Homo sapiens: one gene and its partners. The protein of the gene in region 5 purifies or fractionates together with the protein of the main gene of each other region. This does not show direct contact. Each region holds a gene or a part of one and is shown on either strand. Other genes may lie near its edges. The genes, in order: NAA15, IQGAP2, PHF6, EIF5B, SLC14A2, DDX42 and CALD1.

Region 1 (3,500 bases), on a different chromosome or scaffold from region 5:
CTAAAAAAATAATGTGCATAGTCTGGCTTACTTTTAATTTTGAAATAGTTTCAAACTTATAGAAAAGTTGCAGGAATAGCACAAAGAACTCTACATAGGGGTTCATTCATACTAAACTAATTGTTAATATTTGGTGCATTTACTTTAAAATTTGTGTATCTATTTATCTATTTTAATTTTCTTCCTTAAATGTTTGAGAGTAATTGCAAGACATCATGCTCCTTTACCCCTAAATGCTTTAGTGTGTATTTTCTAAAAATAACTGTATAGTTTTCAGTTCTCTAGATAGTATTATAGGGATAGATTATAAAAATTAGGAAATTTAACACTGATAGACTGTTATCTAATTAATCCCCAGCCCATATTCAGAATTTACTAATTGTCCTAGTTATAGCCTTTCTAGCAATTTGATTTCATTGCAGGATCCAATTAAGAATCATACCTTACATTTAGTTATCATTTCTCTTCAGCCTCTTTTAATCTGAAACAGTTTTGAAAACTTCCTTTGTATTTTATGACATAGACATTTCTGAAGAAGGCTGTGCTTTTGTAGGATGTCCCTCAATTTGGATTTTTCTGATGGTTCCTCATTCTTAGATAGAGTTTTATAATTTTGGCAGGAAACCATATAAATGATATTGGGTCCTTCTGCGTTCATTACATCAAGAGGCACATGCCATCAGTTCGTTCCATTTGATTACATGGTGAAAGTTGTATTTGCAGTTGTAAACGTATTTTTCTCTCTTTGTGTTTAATATGCAGTTTGAGACTGAATAGCCTATTGCTCATCAAACTTTCACCATCTAGTTTTAGCATTCATTGATTATGATTCTTGCCTGAATCAGTATTACTATGATAGTCGCAAAATGGTGATTCTCTTAACTCTAGTCATTCCTTGTAGGTTTATTATTTGGCATTCTACTCCTGAGTAAGAGCTTTCCCTTCTTCCCCATATTTATTGTGTGTAAGGACTTATGGATTATTATTTTATTCAACCTGTTATATCCTAATATTGTCATTATTTACTCAGTTGCTCTGTAGATACTTAAGAATTTTTTAAAAATTAGTTTTATCAACCGGATGTTATCCTTTGACTTCTTACATGTTTTTGAGTATTGTGAACAATTTTCTGATATGAAAATAAAATTCTTACTGTCAGTATTCCTTATATCCATATACAGACATCCCCTGACAAGGTGGATTATGAATATAGTGAACTACTCTTATATCAGAATCAAGTTCTTCGGGAAGCAGGTCTCTATAGAGAAGCTTTGGAACATCTTTGTACCTATGAAAAGCAGATTTGTGATAAACTTGCTGTAGAAGAAACCAAAGGTATTTTTAAAAGAATTGTCATTTATTCTAATATTGAAATATGACAGAGCAAGGCTGAAAAATCTAGTTGCTGCTGACAGTTTCATATAATTCAGCTTTTTGATGATAGGAAATCTATTTCTTACTCGTGTACTTTTAATAGTTTATGATGTGGGAAAATGTACATTTAAACAATATTGTAGATAGAGGAGAAAGTTGATTGTGAACAATGAAAAGTAGTTGAATGAAATGACTCATAACATTCTTTAAATAAAGTATCTTTGTATTAAAAATATTATGGAATTTGATCAAAACACAAGAGACAATTAGTTTTATAAGACAGAGGATGACATTTCTTAGAAACAGTTTATTAATAAACTATAGTGTATGTAGTATGTGCCAGATTTATTGCTAATAATATATATTGATGAATCAGTCTTTACTAAAATACATATAGGATATTTCTGAGAGTCTTTATGGTTAATCTGAATGTCTTCGATGACACAGAAAGAATATGAGTTCTGGAAGAAAGGGAGACCAGAGATTTGGGTTCATAATATGTAGATTGTGATAGGAGGGGTAGATCCCACTCAGCAGAGGGCTGAGAAAAATGAGTCTTAACAGTTTTAGAAGTTGAGGGCGTGATTATAGAAAATAAAAGAAGAATAACAAGTAATGAAAGGACAAGTGATTTTTTAAAAAATTACCTTCTGAAATGCTGCTTTGTCCTTGCTAGTCTAGGGAACTGAAGTTTGCTGGTTTCACATTCCCTTGGCTCACCTTGAGGTTGAACACAAAAAGTATAATATACATCCATGTGCATAATAGGTATAGCCATTGTTTGCCAGATAAACTTTTGTCGGAGGATAATGGTACTGATAAGAAAAACTGGAATTCTAAGACTTCTGGAGGGAGCTCTCTTGTGAACTGCAGATCCAAGACAACCTTCTTTCATTTGAAGTAGTCATTCTTTAGTAGTCTGTTAATCACAAAGGAAGGAAATTTCTGACTTGCTGGAAAGATGGCAAGTCTGGAAAAAACTTGTCTCATTGGCCACTAAATAGCTCTGTGAACAGAGTCAAGGCTTGGGCCTCAAGTTTCTTTATGGAAATAAATGACAAATTATTTCATTTGATCCCTTTGATAACTTCATTAATGAGGAAGAATGGCAGATAGGTAAAGTTAGATAAAGGACTCAGAGCTGACCAGTGGATTTTTAGCAATTTAGAAGTCATTGGTGACCTTAACAAAAGCACTTTCTGAGCTTCTGGAAGAAGGATGGTAAAAGCCCAAACATCAAGTCTATTTAAAAGAGACTGAGGCCGGGCGCGGTGGCTCAACCCTGTAATCCCAGCACTTTGGGAGGCCGAGGCAGGTGGATCACGAGGTCAGGAGATCGAGACCATCCTGGCTAATCTGGTGAAACCTCGTCTCTACTAAAAATACAGAAAAATTAGCCAGGCGTGGTGGCAGGCGCCTGTAGTCCCAGCTACTCGGGAGGCTGAGGCAGGAGAACGGCGTGAACCTGGGAGGCGGAGCTTGCAGTGAGCTGAGATTGTGCCACTGCACTCCAGGCTGGGCAACAGAGCAAGACTCCGTATCAAAAAAAAAAGGGAGTGGGAGTAGAGGAACTGAAGATAAGAAGCACACATGACTCAGTTGAGGAGTTTTGCTGTAAATGAAACAAATGGGGTGCCGGTAGGTGAAATGGGATGCAGGCTCAAAAAGTTTTTGTTTGTTTGTTTGTTTTTCATAGCGTGTATTTGTGCTGACTGGGGAGTGATCCAATAGAGATAGAATATTTGATACAGTAGAGAGAATGTCATGTGGTAGATTGATGTCATGTGAAGGATTAATTTAGGTAAGAACATGAATAGTTCACATCAACAAGTAGTGGTGGTGTGTAAGTGGCGGGCAAGTAAATGTGTAGATGTAATGCATATTTTGGAGTTTCCTCTAATTGCTTCCGTTTTCTACATGAAATAAGAAATAAGGCTATCAGCTCATTCCACAAAATATGTATTGAATACCTACTTTGAGTTAGGTAATGGGACAGGGTGTATAAAGAGAATAGAAGGGAAGTGAGGGTAGAATCAATCTTTGGAAATTCTAGCAATCTTTAGAAATTCAAGGCAGTGTTGCTGGTAGGGATAGTTGGTGGGAGAAGATAAGATGGTCAAGATCAC
Region 2 (3,500 bases), on a different chromosome or scaffold from region 5:
CCACAAATTCTAAATAGAAATGAATAATCATGAACTACCTTTGTTTTCTAGTAAGTCACTCACTCCAAGGGAGACCGAGGAATGAGAAATGAGTTTCCAAGTGAGGATTAAAAGAGGCCAAACTGATGTTACACTTCTATGGCCTGTTGATTAAATGGCAGACATGAGAACAAACATGACAAGAGGAAAGTGTTTCCTCAGAGCTCCAGGAGGAGTGAATCTGACTACCAGACTCATGCCTTTCTTGTTAATGATTAGTGATATAATTTGGAAACACAAAATCAATAGAATTAAATCTTCTTACATGTGTCATTAAGAAAGGCTTGAGAATAGAACAGAACATATTCACATACACAATCATCAACAAATATAAAATCTGGGTTTTCCTAACCTTTCAAAATCAAGTATTCCATTTCCTACTACAGTCGTTCCTTGGTATGTTTGGGGGATTGGTTCCAGGACCCCCATACACACCAAAATTTGTGCATACTCAAGTTTGAAATTGGCCTTGTGGAACCCATGTATGTGAAAAGTCATCTGTTTGTATATGTGGGTTCTGCATCCCATGAATACTGTATTTTCTCTCTGTCTTTGGTTGAAAAAATCCATATATAAATAGACCCGAGCAGTTCAAACCTGTGTTAATCAAGGGTCAAATGTATCTGACGTAGATAAGCAAGTTCTTCCTCACCGGAAAACTTTTTAAAAATGATTCCTCTCTTCTTAAGTTGAAAGAAGCAGAAATCTGCTATTTTGATTTTTAAATTCTAGGTACTGGAAGCCTGTAGCATACAAGGAAGAACAAGTATGCCATTTTGTCAGCAGCAGAAATAATACACACAGAAAAGACTCAGTGTAATAGGAGTGCTGTGGTGGGGGTGCGATAGGATCGCCAGACAGAGGCAATCTTGCCTGCACTTCCCTCTCTCCTCTTTCCCCAGTGGCTGGTAGAAGAAATGCTTGTAACCACCTGGGGTTCCTGTCCTCCATGCCCACTCTAGCTCTGGGCACAGAGCACATATTATTCTTGCCTACCATTCTTGCACGTTTCTCCAAAACTAAGGGCCCCTCTCACCTGAATTCCTGATACGTCTCTGATAAATAATTGTTCATAGATGAGAGATGCTCATTTTCTCCTTCAAACAGCTTGTTGGAGGCTGCGTGCTGAAGAACCTTGGCCACTGATCCTAAGTTTCTCCTTTGGTCAGAATTTATCTGACCTCCAGCTGTCATGTCGATGATATCAAAGCCATCTGGAGCTACAATGGCTGGATTCATGTACCGATAGTACAGGAGGTTTCCAACAATCTGGAGTGACGCAGAAGTGCATGACCATTTTTAAGAGAGAAAACTCAAGAGTTTTAGTTTTCTTTTTTTTTTTAAAGATATATATTCTCCTACATTTCCCAAGAGAAAGCAGATCATTTTCTGATGTAAATCCTAACAAGGAGTTTAATAAAGGCAATGAATATAATCACACATTATTAATAGCATAATTTGCAAAGTTATTTTTGATGAAAAAATGCTCATTGCCCCCAAAATGCTCTAATGCAAAGAATTTCAATAATGTCTAGGATCTCCAAATTAACCTCAGCTTAATCAATTATCTTGAGAGTCATTAGAAACAGAAGACCTGCAGCTTATTATAAATAATCATACATGGGGAATAATCTTACAAAGTTATATGTTGGTAATTTTGATTCATACCCCCAGGAGAAGCTATGGTGAGATTACCCTTGAAAATCTACCTTTAATAGCTCATCTTCTGTTGCATCGGGGAATTTCTCATGGATCGAATTCTTCAGTACTTTGGCTATATACCTCAATCCATAACTACATATAAAACAGATGACAAAAGAAAATAATGGAAAAAAGGCGGAGTGAGGAAAAAACACACAGCAATTGTTCCAGTCAACTTCAGCTGAGTAGTTTTTCTAAAAATTAAACATAAGATGAGATGGTAATGGAATCACAGGACTTCCACTGATGATAATAACTGAGCTGTGTTTGCTACTGAAGTATTGCCCCTTCTTTAGAGAACAGTCAGGAATTTAAAAGGTAAATGTAGGCAATCTTTTAAAATAGTAAACACAATATAAGGGAAAACTGCTGTCTTCACTACAGGGGCTTATTTTACATCGTATTCCAAGAACGTTCCAGGAAAGAATGTTAAACTTGCTGCAAGTACAACTTACGGCAGTAGATCAAGGGAAGAAATGATAGAATTCAGGACTTTGTCGGTGACCCTTCTCAGGTTCTCAATGGAAGCCTCCAGTTTATTTTTCACTTCTGGGTATGTTAGAGCTTGTTCTGTGGTCACATCATAAGGCAACTTGCTGAAAACACAAAGGCTTTAAATTAACTGGAGGCTTAGGTACAAGCATTAATTTTGCTGCCAAGTTGGTTCTATAGTCAAGCTTTGTATAGTGAATTGGACTTTGCCACTGACTCCAGTAACAAAATGTTTACTAAATGAGGGGAGGCTCCACCTTCACAGAGGGTACCTTCTGCAACTTGGAACAGGAAGGACTTGAGGCCTTCCCTCTGGTCTCTTCTGGCAAGATAAGAGGCAGACCCAGGTAATTTAGACTCAGCTAAATTTCTTTTAATTATAAAAAGCAAATGTTCATTACAGAAAAATAAAATCACATATAATCTAAAACAATACCAGAGAGGACAACCAATTTTCTTTTCTTTTTTTTAAATTAATTATTTTTTATTTTATTATTATTATACTTTAAGTTTTAGGGTACATGTGCACAATGTGCAGGTTAGTTACATATGTATACATGTGCCATGCTGGTGTACTGCACCCATTAACTCGTCATTTAGCATTAGGTATATCTCCTAAAGCTATCCCTCCCCCCTCCCCCAATCCCACAACAGTCCCCAGAGTGTGATGTTCCCCTTCCTGTGTCCATGTGTTCAATTCCCACCTATGAGTGAGAATATGCGGTGTTTGGGACAACCAATTTTCATACCTTAGTGCATAACTGTCCAATCTCCTCTGTGCATGTATGTCTGTGGGCCTCGCATATTGATGGGTGTAATGCAATTTGTGTAATCGACATTCTATACAGATCCTGTGTGGCGTATGTAATGAGCATTCTTTTCCCAGAAAAATGGGTTATTGCACCTAACTCCAACTGGAATATATACCCTGAACATTTTTTTCTGTGCCAACAAATGTATATCTATACCACGATTCCAAATACTTATTCCATTATGTGCTATACAAACATTTATTTAACAAATCCCTCAAAGCTAAATATTTTGACTTTTCCTGACTTTTTATTATTACAAACAGTACTGTAACAACCACCCACATAATTACATAATTCTCTGTGTACACTTTATTTCACAGACATCCTTTTACAGGAAACAAGAAGCTAGGGTTGCTTAAATCTACAACCACCCACCCAGAATAAGCCAATCCAACCTGGATTGTTAAACCTTACACCTTAAAGTTACTTGCCTGGTAACTGTAAAGAAAAGTACGT
Region 3 (3,500 bases), on a different chromosome or scaffold from region 5:
TTCTGAGAACCATAGCACTATGTTTTTATTTCCTAGTCCTTAAAATAAATGCAGATATAAAAAAGAATGATACTTACTTGAAAGTGATTGTGCTGTAAACCTTATTACCCCTTTATTTATTGCTTGACATTATGACTATCCCTGGAAAATATTTCTGTATCCTGACTTGTTAGCATTTTGTCACTTGACACAGCTTGTATAGTCAGAACAAAAGCAGTTTTGGTCCCTAATGTTGAAACATTATTAACAAATGCAATGCCTAGTGTTACACTACATGAAGCAACAGCATACATCTGTCAATATTGCGAAGTTCAGTGGAGATTTAATTTATTTGGACCTTTTTTTTTTTTTTTTTGACAGAGTCTCGCTCTGTCGCCCAGGCTGGAGTGCAGTGGCGTGATCTCGGCTCACTGCAAGCTCCACCTCCCAGGTTCACACCATTCTCCTGCCTCAGCCTCCCAAGTAGCTGGGACTACAGGCGCCCATCACTGTGCCTGGCTAATTTTTTGTATTTTTAGTAGAGACGGGGTTTCACCTTGGTCTCAATCTCCTGACCTCGTGACCTACCTGCCTCGGCCTCCCAAAGTTCTGGGATTACAGGTGTGAGCCACCGCGCCCGGCCTTGGACCTATTCGTTAAAGCATCAGAACTTTGTATGAGTTTTACTATTATAAATTGTTTTGATTAATTTTTAGTGTTATAGTGTAGGGAGATAATTTTTTCCCCAAATGTAGTGTGTTACAAATAACGAAATTTGTTCCTTGATCTAGGGAATGGAACAATACTGGGAATTGAGAACACAAGCTTTAGTGACAGACTTGAGTTTGAATCCCAGCTCTGTCATTTACTAGCTAGGTGATCCTGATTAAGTTATTTACTTCTCCAGGCCATGTTTTCCTCACCTGCAAAAGGGGTTAGATAATGACAGTACTTGCCTCCCAGAATTATTGCCAGAATTAAAAGAGGAAGTATATAGGATTTAAGGTGGTGCTGGGCACATGGTTAGGACTTGATAAATAGTAGCCACCACTTATTGTTTTTGTTTGTTTTTGTTTTTGAGATGGAGTCTTGCTCTGTTGCCCAGGCTGGAGTGCAGTGGTGCGATCTCGGCTCACTGCAGCCTCCACTGGGTTCAAGCAATTCTCCTGCCTCAGCCTCCCGAGTAGCTGGGACTACAGGTGTGTGCCACCATGCCTGGCTAATTTTTAATTTTTTTTTTATTTTTAGTAGAGACAGGGTTTTGCCACATTGGCCAGGCTGGTCTTGAATTCCTCACTTGAGACCGTCTGTCCGCCTCGGCCTCCCAAAGTGCGGGGATTCCAGGTGTGAGCACTGAGGAATAGTGGCAGAAGGGAAGAACTTTTGCTCCGTTTCCTTCCCTTAGAATGTCAGTTTAAACAACTTATATAGGGGATAGGAATGTAACATACGTTTAGGTTTGAAATAATTTTTGAAACTCCTTTTAGCCTTCAGTTTTGCTTCTTTCATTATATCATTTTTACATGATGTGCTATCAGGTAACCAAAATTCTAGATTTAAGTTTGATTCTCTACTATTCCCTGTGTCAATTTGTCTAAGCAATAAAAGGGCTATGAATCAAATAGGAGGGGGGAAAAAGAGTGAAGAGCTTAATGTAACTAGATAAACTGCATATAAACTAGGTAATCAGCTTCCCTAATTGACATTTTTTTTTTTTTTTTGAGATGGAGTTTCGCTCTTGTTGCCCAGGCTGGAGTGCAATGGCGCGATCTCGGCTCACTGCAACCTCCGCCTCCTAGGTACAAGCGATTTTCCTGTCTCAGCCTCCCAAGTAGGTCAGATTACAGGCATGTGCCACCATGCCCAGCTAATTTTTTTGTATTTAGTAGAGACGGGGTTTCACCATGTTAGGCTGGTCGCGAACTCCTGACCTCAGGTGATCTACCAGCCTCGGCCTCCCAAAGTGCTGGGATTACAGGCGTGCACCACCATGCCTGGCCCCTAATTGACTTTTTAAGGCATTTTATCCCGTGAGCCTGTTTGCTTTGGCTCCTGTTCATCTGGATTTCTAGGTGAAAAGTAGGTCATGAACACTCATTCAAAATCATCGAAAACTGGAGTACTGAACCCTGAGTGCTTTCAAGACAAATTTCAATCTGTACCTGGTGTTGACTCCAAAGTTGCTCGCTTGCCCCAAAGAAAAGAACAGAGAGATAAGGAGGCTAGGGCTTGAGGTTAAAGTGTACGTATCAACAGCCAGGTGGGTCAGAGTTGAGGATGAGAGGGCTCAGTAGAGCAGGAGGTGTGAGTGTTTGGTTTTTATGTTCTTGCTGCCACAGGCAATTTTCCAAGGTTCATGTCAGCCACAAGGATCAAAGGAGGAAAGCCATTCTGCATGAACATTTTCATCTCCTTTACACGGTCTTTAATTATATAGCACCAAGATGGACCAGGAAAAATTTGCCAGAGTACTAAGGCTTTTATGATTTGATGCCCTGTTTTTGCAGTTTAGACAGATATATATTTTTCCAGTATGATTTCCAGTTTCTACTGAAGCCATATGGAGATACCACATCTGTACCATCTATTCTTACTTAACTCCAGTCATCTAGCCAAGAAATGCAAATTTCCAAGTAAAATTATGAGTTAGCACTGCTTTTTTGAATTTAAGGAGATACTTGAAAGAAGGATATTTGAAGAATTTACCGTTTCTGGATGAAGCTAGCTGGTGAGATTACTAAGGGTATCTACTATCTACATTGGATAGCTATTCTTCTTTTTTTTTTTTTTTTTTTAAGATGGAGTTTCCCTCTTGTTGCCTAGGCTGGATTGCAGTGACATGATCTCGGCTCACTGCAACTCCGCCTCCCAGGTTCAAGCAATTCCCCTGCCTCAGCCTCCCCATTGGCTGCAATTATAGGCGCCCACCACCACGCCCAGCTAATTTTTTGTATTTTTAGTAGAGACAGGGTTTACCACGTTGGCCAGGCAGGTCTCAAACTCCTGACCTCAGGTGATCCGCCTGCCTCTGCAGATAGCTATTATTCTAATTGGTACCGGTGTCAGATTATATCACAGATTACAAGAAGAGAAAGAGTTCAGAAGGCCATTTAGTTCACCTGTCTTACCCCTATGCAAGATTTCCTACAAGCCACTCAAGATAAGATTTTTGGCCTAAGGATTGGCTGACACGTGTAATCCTAGTGCTTTGGGAGGCCGACTGGGAGGATTGCTTGAGGCCAGGAGTTGAAGACCAGCCTGGACAACAAAGTGAGACCCCTATCTCTACAAAAAAATTTAAAAATTTTGAAATGTGGCATGTTCCTGTAGACCTAGCTACTCAAGAGGCTGAGGTGGGAGGATTGTGTAAGCTCAGGAGTTCGAGGCTGTGGTGAGCTATGATTGTGCCACTGTATCCATCTAGCCTGGGTGATAAAGTGAGGTCCTGTCTCAAAAAAAAAAATTTTTTTTTGCCCTGTTTTTAAATATATCAAGAAATTGTAATTCTACCCAAGTAACCT
Region 4 (2,719 bases), on a different chromosome or scaffold from region 5:
TTTCTCTGTTGGTGCTGCTTTCCTGATAGAGCAACTTCCTCAACAGACAAGGCCCAGCTAGAGGTCAAGCCCTAATGGGGGATCCAGTCCCATCAGATTCTACAATCAAACTGAAGCCCAAGGAGCTACAGGTACAGGTGACCCAAGAAGAGTGATTCCCTGTTGCTTAAAGTGTGCCACTTTTGCTGAAATACTTACCTTACTAACAAGAATATCTGTAGCTTCAAAATGTCTTCCAAACATTTTGGGTGACTCACCAGGGATAGGTTCTATTTTTACACAAACTTCTTGTCCTTTTTTTGCAACATCCACTTGTTTATGGTTTATTTCAATACTTGTTACTATTCCGATGTCAACAAACTATAAAATAAGAACAAATTAAAATGCATGCAGAAGAATTCATGCCAATCACAGGCGCCATGGCTGGATAGCTGAAGTAAGAACTAGAGCAAAAGCCTGTTTTAAAAGTCATGGCAGTGCGATCCTTTCATCACTCACGGTGTAACATTTTGGTAAACTAGGCTGGCACCACCAACACCCTATTCCCTTCATGATGGTTGTAAGAATGACAGGAGATAATGTGCTTTGCAAAACATTCCAAGTGCCCTGTTGACCCAATGTCATTTCCTATTTTTGCTCTACCATTTCACGTGACAGGTGCCGTAATAGGAGGGATCAGCAGGCACAAAGGGTCTGAGTCAGGAATGAGCTTGAAGTGGCTGATGGGAATGAAGTCAGAGTGAGGACCAATCCTGAAATTTTAAGAATGATGGCCTGTGAGCAGATGAGTGATGTGATCTCAGAGTTTGGGGCAAAAAACCCTGACTCCTTTGTGGAGAAAAAGATTCAGGAGAGTAAGAGTGAAAACAGGGAGAGCTCTGGTTGGTTTAGGAGGCCAAAGCCACATAGAAAGTAACACAAATAAATGTCCAGGCTTAGTCCACTGAAATGGTAGAAAAGCAATGACAACTTCTAAGTGCCATTGCCCATTACAAGAACCAGGTTTGGGCCAGGGAAAGTACTAGATGAGGCTGGAACATCTCAACCAGAAAGGAAGATGATGCTCAGACTGCTGTGTGTCAAGGATACAGGAGCCAGTTGAGCTCCTACTGACCACAATAGAAAATCTGAGTATCAAAAGAATAAAGGTAATGGATTATATTAAAAAAAAAAAAACCCACTGAGTCTATGACTCAATAAAAAGGTCAGTGGGAAGAGGTTCTTTGTAAGAAATGGGGGGACAGGTATATCCACAATTTTGCAACCATCTACGTAATAGTTGACTTAGGCAACGCTTGCCAGTGGGTACTAAAGGCACTGGGATAAAGGCTGTTGAGAAACAGGATATCCATTAGGAACTCCAGGTACCAGACAGATTACAGAGTAATTATAAAGGGGCAAGTTTCTAATGGAGATGGTTGGCGTCTAGCACTTTCCCCAGGAAATCAGAGCATCAGCAGCAGTCAGACAGGCTGGGTCATGCAAGAGGCAGGCACACAGGGAAACTGCATGAGTGTCTTTCCAATAATTCTAACCTGTGTCTAGTTGGGAGGGAGAGAAACAGATAAATCCAAATGGAGGAGGGATTTGCAAAACAACAGGGACACTTCAAAAAGAATGGAGGACTGTTCTTGACTGAGGCTCAGCCACAAAACAAGCCCCAGTGCAATGCAGCTTGCAGGGCACTGGGCCAGATTGGTGGGGAGAGTTACCAAAACATCTTTGGAATAACTGGTGAAATAATGTTGAGGGCTGCAAATTATAGGATATTGTTGAAATATTATTAATTTTTCTTAGGTATGCTGACAGAAAGGGAAGGTAAACATGAGTGTTCATTATACTAGTTTTTAAACTTTTCCACAGGCTTGAAACCTTTCAAAATAAAATAAAAGGCAATAATGTAAAGTGCCTTGGAGCCCCAATTAACTGAAGCACTGAGATCAGCACTGAGTCAACACTGACTATGGAGCACTGATATTTACCAATACTGAAGCACAACAGAAGGTGACAGGCTCTGCTTGTTTTAAAGTTACCACATTTTCTTCCTACTGAGGTAAAAACACTGAAACATTTGTTAAGAAGGTGGAGACCACACTAAATACACAGCACAGTACTGTGAACTACAGGCACAAAGCTGTGTTGGTACGACTCTTGGACACTCATTTAGTGCTTTAAGAAATGACCCACAGAATGTACAACTAGAACTTACATTTTTGCTTGGGACACACATGGGTGTCCCCTGTTTCACCTGACCTGCTTCCACCGTCACCCCCATCACTATCGGATCTCGAGAATTAAAAATGTACTGAGGGAGGATTTTTATCTTGCAGGGAAATACTGCTATGTGCCTGAAAGGAAAAAAGAAAAGAATTTTAAGCTTACAGAATCACTTAAACATAAAAAGAAAAACTGCAGCTGAACATCAGGCTTCTCCCATTAGAGGAAAGCAGCTTTCCCCAGCGGCCACAGGAGAGGGGCAGGCAGGGTGCTGCAGCCCAGGGCCACCCCATGCCCAGAGCGCTTCTTCCTTGTTCTTAACCTCCTCCTCCCCATTCTGTTGCTTCCCAAGTCTTTGCTTTCTTCTCTTTTAAAGCCCTACCTCCAAAAGAAGCTGCATCACAGGAGCATTCTGTTCCTAGTCTAAAACACTGAGCTTGGCTGCTGAAGATGTCAGCCACAGTCTGGGGCTTAGAACCTAGGCAGTACCTGGTGACAGGCA
Region 5 (3,500 bases):
TCCTTTTAGTACTTGTAAGGTGTTGAACACTTTCCACCTCAGGGCCTCTGCAAGTGCTGGTTCATTGGCATGAAGACCTTTCCCTCACTCTTCCTGGTCAACCCCTACACTTCTGCCAGGCTTTGTCTCAATGATCACTTGCTAAATAAACCCTCGCAGATCCACCCACCATGTTCTCCTGTCACATACTCTCATGGGACCAGGTATTTTTCCTTATAGCAGATTTGTATATTTATTTGTATGGTTTCTATCTTCCCACCAGAACTTAGGTTTCATGAGGACGGTGGCCTCCTCTGTTCTGTCTATTGCTTTGACCCCAGCTCCTAGCACAGTGTGTGGCATGTAGTAAGGGTTCAATAAATAAATATGGAAGGAAGAGGTGGGGGGGAGGAAGCGACTGTGAGCAAGGTTACAGGTGACTGATAGATAGGGAACACTTCTCTGCATAACTTTACAAATCTCTGTGGATCTCAGGGATCTCCAGTGGTTTCAGAACAGCGTGGGGCCACCCACCAGCCATGCATTTTCTGCAGGCAGAACCCCCTGTCATGTCTAGCACCGTTCTCATTCCCAGGAGGAGCTCATTAGACCACTGTGAATTTTTGTGTAGGTCTGCAAATGTCATTCAGATCTAACTAACCCTGATGCTGCCATAACTCCGGAATGGAGGCCTTTCCTTGTATTCTGACCCTGTAGGTAGGGTTTCAGTAAGGGGTGGGCACACTGCCATAGAGGGGGCATGCTGGAAAGGTTTAGGAGACAGTGAAATCCGACAAGCCCCAGAACCTGTTCCTCTCCAATGCGCTCTCTCCCTCTGGTGGCCAAGAGGTGATACAGCATCCCTGGCCCTTGGTAAAAATTTCCCTCCAAGCCAACCATATGAAAAGTAAGCAGGGGCAATCAGATATCTAGACACACAATCTGCATGACACTATACAACTGGATGAACTAGATATGTTCCGGAAAGGCCTTGTGTTAAATTCAGTGGCTATGAAATCTATTAAAAGTCTAGCTGAAAAGTGGTAATGATAAAGGTTTTTCCTAAACATATTTCATGGAATCTAAGATGTTATCAGCTGTAAGATTGATCACTATTTTATGTATCATAAAGAAAGAAGAAAATGCTTCCATTCATAATTTCAAGATGCATCCTGATTTTAGAAATGTTAAAATATGAAAATAATATACATCATATAATCAAGGAAATATAGTGTTCTTTTAAGTGGTGGGGCTGAAGTATACAGGTAGGAGTTGAGAATGGGTATACTCAGAAATTATTTCCTAACCGTAAGAATTTAAAGATTTTTATATTTCTTTTGATGAAAAAAAAATGTGTCTACTTTATAATCCCTGTAAGAACAGGGGCCATTACCTTGTTAATTTCTGCATTTATACCACCCAACAGAAAGCCTTACACCTAAAAATCCCTTTATTATTATTATTGCACAAGGGAAGTTCTTTCTAGGGTACTCTCCAAAAAGGTACTCCACCTTTGAGTCCCTTCTGTATGCAGACAATATTTCCATTTACAGATAAATCATGTCCTTGAAAAGCAAAATAGGAATTGTTTCTCATGTGTATGTTGCTCTCAGCATTTTCCAGAGCAAGCTCACCTCATTGTGACATTTGCAGGACCCAGAAAATGAGCAGTTTGCTGCAGAGTCAAGGTTAGACCCAGTTCCCCACTGCGCTCTCCATTACTCTGACTGCCTGGCTGGGCCATGCACAGCCGAGTGGCTGGCCCTTGAGCGCCTGGGTCCAGGGCCTCAGCCCGCTGTTGTGTTTCTCAATCCTATGTATCCTCTGCAGGAACAGGGCCTTGCACCTCCTCTAGGGAATACAGCGTTCCTTTGCCACGGGAATGTTTACTCTGTTACAACGGGGAATTTTGGCTTTGGGGTAGGGGGCGAGACATGCAGCACCAATGGCCCTGTGGAGAGCAAGTCTCCGCATCCGGAAGGAGCACAGGCTGTGAGGTGGGGCTGCTCCTGCCTCCCTGCTCTGCCACTCGGGGCCGCGTGGGCCTCCATGTCTCCGAAGGGCAACGTAGGCTTCTCAGGACAGTGAAATTGCTGACTTGGTTCCTGGCACATAGTAGGCGCTTAGTGATCTTACTTTTCCCTCTTCTCGTGCTCCCAAATTGAAGGGAGAGAGGGTGGGAGCAGCCAGATGAAGTACAAGCTGGCTGGTGTGAAACGGAACAGCTTTCAAAAGTTTCCATAAGGCGTCGCCACTTGTTAGAACTGGATGTGAAATCCCTGCCCGAGCCACGTCCGGGCTGAGGGCCTCAGCCCGTTCCCAGCTCAGCTCAGCGCCAGTCCATTAAACCTGCTTCCAAGAACACATAATGATCTGCTTGGCGCACTCAGACTCTCCTTGGCTGCCCACACCTCCTCTTCTCCTTCAGAAATATGGACAGAGAGGCTGTTTGGATCAGTCCCACGTCTCTCCAAAAACCAGGCCTCAAATGTCTGGCAAGGGGCTCCCAAAACAGACCAGCTCCTCCATCCTCTTTGTAAGAACCCTCCTTGTTGAATATCTACCGTTCGCCTGTGGGCTACCCTGGAGGGATCATTGCTGGAAGGCCCAGTCCTTGCCTGCAAAGGGCTCACATTCGAGTGCCCAGGAGAAGCAGTGAGCAGGCACTGTGTCCTGAGCAGGAGGCACAAGGGCAGAGGGCAAGAGGGCGGTGCAGAGAGCACAGAGCGGCTGCCCTGCCCTCCCAGCCCTGGGGAGACTGGGCTCAGCTTCCATGTCAGGACTTGGCTAAGCAGGTGAGAAAGAGGAGCACACTCCAGAGAAATGCCTGAGAAAATACATGGTTTGGGCAAGCAAGTCCCAGCATGGACTCTGCTACAGCATGGGAGAGATGTCAGCAGGCAATCAAAGACAAAACTAGGGTGTGAGAACCAGACTGTCAGGAGTCCTTAGTGTCTAGGTTTGGACCCAAATTCTTCCAATGGTTAGAAAAACTGTGGCTCCTGCTCTATTGTACTAATTTTGAAATTCTTTTCCTGATTATTTTCTCCTAAAGATCATCCATCTCCAGTAGAATTGCAGAAACACGCCCATGCCCAGTGAAGAGGGGCTGTGCCTATTTCGTATGCTCCTGCTGCCCTGGGATGTAAGGGGCCCATGTTCAAAGGGATTTCTTGAGTTGTTGGTGTGAATTAGTGCAGAGTCAAAGCTCTCTCCCTATCCCTAGTCTCTTGGGCTTAAGTATACCAGTCCCCTGGTCATCTGGGGATGAATCTCAAATGGCCCCATTTACTACTTCTTTTTTTTTTTTTTTTTTTTTTTTTTTTTGAGACAGAGTTTCGCTCTTGTCACCCAGCTTGGAGTGCAATGGTGCAATCTCGGCTCACTACAACCTCCTCCTCCCAGGTTCAAGCAATTCTCCTGTCTCAGCCTCCCGAGTAGCTGGGATTACAGGCGCCTGCCACCACGCCTGGCTAATTTTTGTATTTTTTGTAGATACGGGGTTTCACCATGTTGGCCAG
Region 6 (3,500 bases), on a different chromosome or scaffold from region 5:
CAGCCTGGCCAACGTGGTAAAATCCCATCTCTACTAAAAATGAACCTGGGAAGCAGAGGCTGCAGTAAGCCAAGATTGCGCCACTGCACTCCAGCCTGGGCAATAGAGCAAGACTTCGTCTGGAAAAAAAATAAACAAAAAAATAAAGGCATGCCAGGTACAGTGGTGTGCACCTGTAGTCCCAGCTACTCAGGAGGCTGAAGTGAAAGGATCACTTGAGCCAGGGGATTTGGGGCCAGTCTGGGCAATATAGCAACAACAACAAAAACAGTAAACACAGGCCAAAACGTTCCCAGTTTGAAAGAAAGATGTCAAGGCTGGGTGCGGTGGCTCACGCCTGTAATCCCAGCGCTTTGGGAGGCCGAGGCAGGGGGATCACCTGAGGTCAGGAGCTCAAGACCAGCCTGGCCAACATGGCAAAACCCCATCTCTACCAAAAATATTTAAAAAAAATTAGCCAGGCATGGTAGTGGGCACCTGTAATCCCAGTTACCCAGGAGGCTGAGGCAGGCAGAATTGCTTGAACCCAGGAGTCAGCGTTGCAGAGAGCCAAGACTGTGCCACTGCACTCCAGCCTGGGTGACAGAGAGACAGAGAGAGAGAGAAAAAGAAGAAAGAAAATAAAAGAGAAGAAAGAGAAGAGAAGAAAGAAAGAAGAAAGAGAGGAAAAAAAGGAAAGAGAAAGGGAGAAAGAAAGAAGAAAAGAAAAAGAAAGAAAGGAAGGAAGGAAAGAAAAGAAAGAAAGGAAGGAAGGAAAGAAAAGAAAGAAAGAGAAAGAAAGAAAAGAAAGAAATATTGGTTCTGGAAAACAAGTACAATTACTTGAAAAAAATGTTTTAATTCTAAAGTCAAATGTAAGTGATTTGGTTATACTTTTGAACAAAACAGGCTATAAAGCCTCATGGAATTTGTGGCTCAACCACTTAGTAGAGATGACAAGATGCATACGCTCATGATGTAAGAGTATTCCACTACTGAGAAAATCTAAATGTTAAAGCTGAAGTAAAGCATCAGCTTGAAACAAGAGTAAAATTCAGCAAGAAACACCATACCTCTGAATGATCAATGGGGGGAAGAGGATCAATGATTTTTTTGGTAGGTGCAATTGGATTTCCGTCACTATCATATTCTAGATTGTCTTCCTCTTCCTCCTGAACCACACCAGCAGTTGGGTTTTCTGCCATGTATCGAAAATAAGCTTCCTGCAGGAAAGCACAAGAACATAATCACACCCAAGTACAATTGAGAATGTTTCTGCTCCTGTAATTAGCGCACATAGTGTACCAGATAATTGCACAGTTAACATACCTACCAAGTAAGGCAAGATCCTTACTAGCAATGATTCCTTTAATAATAGCAATATTCAGAAGAACAATCAGAAGAAATGAATTAAACAGTTAGTACTATTAAATGTTGCAACTTGTTTAATAGAAGACTTACAAATCTGTCTGTTCCACAGCCTTCCTGGAGTGGGGTGTCTATCAACCCTGCCCAGAGCCATAGAACACATGCTGTGGCTTTAACAATCCAAGTTTGGAAGTTAACGCTAATTAGAAAGGTCACAAACCTGGAAACGGCTACCACTCACTCTGATTCTCATCACTCCACAACTGAACAATGGGGGAAAAGAGACTAATGGACAGTAATTAATGTTCCAGCTTGAAATACAAGAACCACAAACAGGACACTTACTAAGAGACAGAGGTTAGATGTTACCAGAGGCCATCAATAGATCCCACACTACTCTACCACTTGATTTATCAGAATAAACATTAATTTTGGATTTAAAAAGAAGCAAGCTGAATAAAGCTCGTATTTGCTTTGGATGTCACAGTTGATCAAAAATTCCATCTTCAATATGGGGGAAAGCCATGTGAATCTATGTATTACCAATTGGTCACACAGGTACAAAAGGAGCAAATCAAATGACATTCCCTGCTGAATGTCAGGAATGGCCATTTTGAGTGAAGGCAAGCTCTAGCTTGTCCCCAGTATAGACTTTGTGGATAAAAATAAAAGATAGAAATACTGCATAGGAACTCACTTGGTCATCTTCCTCTTCAATGTCATCTCGAATACCCCTGGAAAAACAAGCGGAGAAACAAACTTCCCTGCAAATGTTCCACATACCCAGCTCCATACTTACAGCAGATTAGTGTTGAATTCCACACAGCACAGGAACTCTCAACACTAATAATAACAAAGCAGCAATGAGCACACTATAAACTATCCACCCCATTATATATATGTGTAGCTGCACTCTATAATCTGCAGTTTGCATTTCTTTTAAATGGGATGATATGATACCCCTAGAAACAGCGGTTACCAACAAGGATATCAGACGTAAAAACTTTCTGAAGACAGATACCAAATGGTCCTAGTTTTGTGAATCCATACAACAAACAATGCGGTTGTGAAAAGTATTTCATACTAAAAAGAAAAAAAAAATCTTGTATTTGGCATATACTAGAAAGGTCACAACCTTCTTATTGTCCCCAAAGTTTCTAGCTCTAGGGTAAATGGTTTTCAGCCAAAAGCAGTTACCTTAGGGATGGGGACAGAGTGAAAACTACATTAACTCCTTTATGAGTTTGGGAATAAAACGCTTAAACAGTTCACATGGAGAAGGGGACCATCACCACTTGCTGTATGTCTCAGGAGCTATAGAGAAAATATGGTTGCTTAGTTCCCACAACCATCTGTTTCTAATCAGACTTTCTGCCTAACCTAGAGCGCTTGCTATTCCTAAGGCAACCGGCAAGCAACACCACCAGTGCAGGGCAGGTGGAAGGGGATATGACATACAGTGAATACCAAAACCACAGCTAAATCTCCATATGGAACAGAAACCCTGGTAAAGGACTGAAGCACTGACTGCCAAGCACAGGGAGAAAAAAGTCCAATCATGACTGGCAGAAAAAGCCTTAGGAGTTTATTCATCAAGGCAAAGAGACTTCTCTTTCCCAGAAAATAAAGTACTTCAAGTTCTGACTATGGCTGCTACAGCACAATGTCACTCTGGAGCTAAATAAAATTAGGTATTATTACAGCCCTCCTTATACACAGGTTTTTATACTGTGAATATTATTTTTCCACCTGTGTTGGTTGAAAAAAATCCCCATGAGTGGACTCACGCAGTTCAAACCTGTGTTGTTCAAAGGTTCAACTATACATAGTTTTCATGATACAGTTGCCATTACTTCTCATAATCAACCATATAGGCATAAACCTATTTTATATTAATTATGCGACAAACTCAGAACAATGAGCCTAAACTTTAATAATTATGCTCCCCTAAACTCTACTATAATTCATTCCTTGTGTTTACTAAACAACTATTTATAGTCAAAGACCAAATACTATTCTACCAAACTGAATGCTTTTTAATTATTGCAAATGCAAAGACTGTTGCCATCTCTATTCTTAAAGTATTCAAGATACAGGAATAACTTCAAGTAAAGTACACAAGTGTACGTCAATATTTTTTCTCTATAAACTTT
Region 7 (3,500 bases), on a different chromosome or scaffold from region 5:
TCCACAGGAAATCACAGCCAATAGCTGACCATTTGTAATTGAGTGTCTATCATGTACGTGCAAAGCAGTTTCAAGATATTACTTCTAGTAGTTGTGACAACTACAAAGTGGAGGAGAAATCATCCCCATTTTGTAAGTGAAAAAAGTGGTAAATTTGAGATTCAAACTCAAGTTCTCCTGACTCCAAAGTTTGTTCTCAAATAGATCTCAATTCTTTCTAGAGCCACATACAAAAGAGGAGTCTCAGTGACGTGGAGTAACTAGCAAGAGGCAGCATAGCACAGTGGTAAAGAAGGTGGGCAGTGCCTCCAGATTATCCCGGGTTTAGATCCTGACCCAGCTACTTACTAGCTGTGGGACCTTAGCTATATTACTTAATCTAATCGTAACTCAGTTTCTTCATCTGTAAAATTAGCTGTTATGAAGATAACTTATTTTATTTTTACCTAATAAAAATCTACATGCTACTTAGCATGTGCCAGGCACTGTTCTAAACACTGAACAATGATACAATTCATGAGGAATCAATGAGCTCCAACATGAACACTGGCTTCAGGTATTTTTAAAGTAGAAATTGTAGACTTTTTTTTTTTTTTTTTTTTACTTTTTGTTTTTTTCTGAGACAGGGTCTCACTGTGTCACCCAGGGTGGAGTGCAGTGGTACAATCTCAGCTCACTGCAGCTTCGACCTCCCAAGCTCATGTGATCCTCCCACCTCAGCCTCCCAAGTAGCTGGGACTACAGATGCACACCACCATGGCCGGCTAATTTTTGTATTTTTTGTAGAGGCAGTGTTTCACCATTTTGCTCAGGCTAGTCTCAAACTCCTGCCCTTAAGCAATCTGCCTGCCTTGGCCACCCAAAGTGCTGGGACTACAGGCACGAGCTACCACTACCAGCCTGACATTTATTTCTTTCACTCATTTAACTCATTTATTAATACTATGTGCAGGACACAGCACATTTTTAGGTTCAAATCACAGCACTGAAAAAGCCAAACAAAGTCTCTACTTTCATAGAGCTTATGTTCTAGGAGCATGAGAAATAAATAAGCAAGCAAACAAACAAATATGCAATCATAAGCATACATTATGAATATGCATGTAACTGAACCACAGAGGTATTCCGCTTGGCTCTCCAATGCAGAGGCTAATTTTACCACCGCATCCCTTAGGGTCAGTGATGTGCTAGTCAATGTTTAGCAACAAGTTCTTGGGTGAGGGGAGGGGAGTCTGCTTTGTAGCATGGGCTGATTTCTGTGGTGTAATTACTTCCATCATGGTCAATTTCAAGTTCTGAATATGACATCACTGAATGAAGAATTGGGAGGAGAAGCTCAGTTGCACAGCATTTTATACAGTATTTCCACCATATAGCCACAATAGATGTAACTAACCTCAAGAGAATAGATAATAGTGAAACATAGCAAAATAATTAGGAAGAGTTTTGAGTATTTATTATCTTGGCTCTTCATATAATGTGTTTAATTGTAAGTTTATATGATTTAGTTTTTATAATGGCTGTGTTTTACAACTGGCTCTCAAAATTCTCGAAAGTTTAACAATGAGCTTTTGGGAGCCAGTATGAGTTTGGGGTGCAGAGAAAGTGGGGACAGTGTTAGAGATGAAGGAGACTGAGTCCAGATGGTGCCATTGTACAGAGGTGGATTCTAATCTAATTCCTTTTTAGCTCCTCTTCTCCAACAAGCTCTGCTTCTATGTACACACGGAAGCACCTGCCCTCTAAACCGAAGAGCATGGGTACAAATATAGTAACAATTTTGACATTCTTACTAGATCAGGTCACTCTTGCAGAGAAACTTTTGGCTCTCCAATCTTTAGTGAATATAATCCATGTACTCAGTGCTCTGAATATGGTAGATTCTTCTGTGCAATACAGAGGATGTAATTCCTAACTGCCGAATAAAGGAAGAACCTAGAGATAAATTTTCTGTCCTTCTGCAAAAGCAAATTATCCCCCATCCATGCACTCAAAGTCTCCTGTCTCTTAGGGTCCACATACTTTCAAAAGGGCCACCCAGGGAAGCATCTAAACCAGGGGCTGTGATGACTCCTGCCCTAGAGAAGATGTAGGGGTGAGGGTGGAGGTGGAGGAAGCTTCTCCCCTCTTCAGGATTTGTGCATCCTCACCACAAAGTGGAAACAGAGAAAAACATCTTCAGCTTTTCCTAGGAAGCGAAATATCTGCTCAAAACCTCCTAAGAACAGAAATACTTAAAATTTTTTTTCTCCTAGATTCACCCCTCCCCCTAAGCCTAAATTTCCCTTAGTAATGATGGCTGGAAAAGGAAGTGGGAAATACCATGAGAAATTTTATTCTTGCCACATTTCCAGTCCTTTACAAAAGCAAACACTGGAAATCTCATCAGAAAAATTTGACCTTACAGGGTTGATAACTTTGTGCTTAAACTGAAAAAAAAGCAAAACTAAAGGTTTTGCTCTTCTGGCCAAACGGATTATTTGGCATATGCAACTATAATTTTTAGAAAGAAATTATTCAAAACTAAAGAAATAGGCTTCTGAGGAATAAGTAACTACATACATCTACTATCAATTATTTTAACGATAGGTGCACAGAACTGTTTCTGAGCCAGGATGTTTTATCAGAGTCACCAGGGAACTTTTACAAACTACAGATGCCTGGACCCCCTTCTAGACCTACCGAATCAGAATCTCTAGAGGATAGGTCTCAGGGATGTGTATTTTCAAAAAGCTCTACAGTTGATTCTGATTAAGATACTGGTTAAGATGCATGGGTATATAGGCAGATTGGGCAGCATTGTATAACCTAAATTTGCTAACTGTTAAAACATGCTCTCTTACTATCAGGGGAAGTAATGTGGTATATTGAAAAGGTTAACTGCTTGGAACTTAGGAGCTGTGTGTTTTGGAACTATCTTACCACTAATTAACTGGATGACTTTGGTCAAGTCACTTGGTTTGTTATTTCATTCAACAAATATTTATTGAGATTCTGCCGTGTGCCACGCACTGGGTATATACGAATGAAAAAAAAATAGAGGTTCCTGTCCTTATATATCTGACAGACCAATAAGACAGGGCAGACATTAATCGAAGAAACCTACAAATACATACATAATTTTACTTGGTGTGGCTAGGCTTTGGAGAATAAAAAATAGATCACTGGTTCATATTTTAAAAAGAATTTCTACTTAAGATCCCAAATTTCCTGTCCCAACCTTCCCACACATAATATAATTATATGTTTTAAGTCCACTCATTAATAAAACACAAAAACACAAACTTAAAAGCTACTATGAATTCAATAACTCTTTTAAATAAATTAGCATTTTATCATTATAATGTATGTATAGAATTAGAAAAATAGTAGCACATATGATGTAAGATATATTATTTACTCAGAGTAGCTTGCCAAAAGCACTTGCTGCATATACAGATTTGTTTACCTCTTGCAATGACTTTGTGGCCTCCCAGGGATCCACCACCCAGAGGTTAAAA

The links.
Region 1: the proteins of SLC14A2 (region 5) and NAA15 purify together in Homo sapiens (affinity purification with mass spectrometry; one large-scale study listed by BioGRID and IntAct). This does not show direct contact.
Region 2: the proteins of SLC14A2 (region 5) and IQGAP2 purify together in Homo sapiens (affinity purification with mass spectrometry; one large-scale study listed by BioGRID and IntAct). This does not show direct contact.
Region 3: the proteins of SLC14A2 (region 5) and PHF6 purify together in Homo sapiens (affinity purification with mass spectrometry; one large-scale study listed by BioGRID and IntAct). This does not show direct contact.
Region 4: the proteins of SLC14A2 (region 5) and EIF5B purify together in Homo sapiens (affinity purification with mass spectrometry; one large-scale study listed by BioGRID and IntAct). This does not show direct contact.
Region 6: the proteins of SLC14A2 (region 5) and DDX42 purify together in Homo sapiens (affinity purification with mass spectrometry; one large-scale study listed by BioGRID and IntAct). This does not show direct contact.
Region 7: the proteins of SLC14A2 (region 5) and CALD1 purify together in Homo sapiens (affinity purification with mass spectrometry; one large-scale study listed by BioGRID and IntAct). This does not show direct contact.

Annotation. Positions count from the first base shown.
Region 1 is NC_000004.12:139,343,005-139,346,504, forward strand, and holds part of NAA15 (N-alpha-acetyltransferase 15, NatA auxiliary subunit), read left to right. Parts: intron 1-1,181; coding exon 1,182-1,335; intron 1,336-3,500. UniProt on the Homo sapiens protein: Auxillary subunit of N-terminal acetyltransferase complexes which display alpha (N-terminal) acetyltransferase (NAT) activity. The NAT activity may be important for vascular, hematopoietic and neuronal growth and development.
Region 2 is NC_000005.10:76,672,285-76,675,784, reverse strand, and holds part of IQGAP2 (ras GTPase-activating-like protein IQGAP2), read right to left. Parts: intron 2,337-3,500; coding exon 2,196-2,336; intron 1,834-2,195; coding exon 1,749-1,833; intron 1,309-1,748; coding exon 1,076-1,308; intron 1-1,075. UniProt on the Homo sapiens protein: Binds to activated CDC42 and RAC1 but does not seem to stimulate their GTPase activity. Associates with calmodulin.
Region 3 is NC_000023.11:134,379,812-134,383,311, forward strand, and holds part of PHF6 (PHD finger protein 6), read left to right. Parts: intron 1-3,500.
Region 4 is NC_000002.12:99,396,389-99,399,107, reverse strand, and holds part of EIF5B (eukaryotic translation initiation factor 5B), read right to left. Parts: intron 2,349-2,719; coding exon 2,210-2,348; intron 361-2,209; coding exon 199-360; intron 1-198. UniProt on the Homo sapiens protein: Plays a role in translation initiation.
Region 5 is NC_000018.10:45,618,476-45,621,975, reverse strand, and holds part of SLC14A2 (urea transporter 2), read right to left. Parts: intron 1-3,500.
Region 6 is NC_000017.11:63,798,170-63,801,669, reverse strand, and holds part of DDX42 (ATP-dependent RNA helicase DDX42), read right to left. Parts: intron 2,082-3,500; coding exon 2,045-2,081; intron 1,203-2,044; coding exon 1,053-1,202; intron 1-1,052. UniProt on the Homo sapiens protein: ATP-dependent RNA helicase that binds to partially double-stranded RNAs (dsRNAs) in order to unwind RNA secondary structures. Unwinding is promoted in the presence of single-strand binding proteins.
Region 7 is NC_000007.14:134,786,134-134,789,633, reverse strand, and holds part of CALD1 (caldesmon), read right to left. Parts: intron 1-3,500. UniProt on the Homo sapiens protein: Actin- and myosin-binding protein implicated in the regulation of actomyosin interactions in smooth muscle and nonmuscle cells (could act as a bridge between myosin and actin filaments).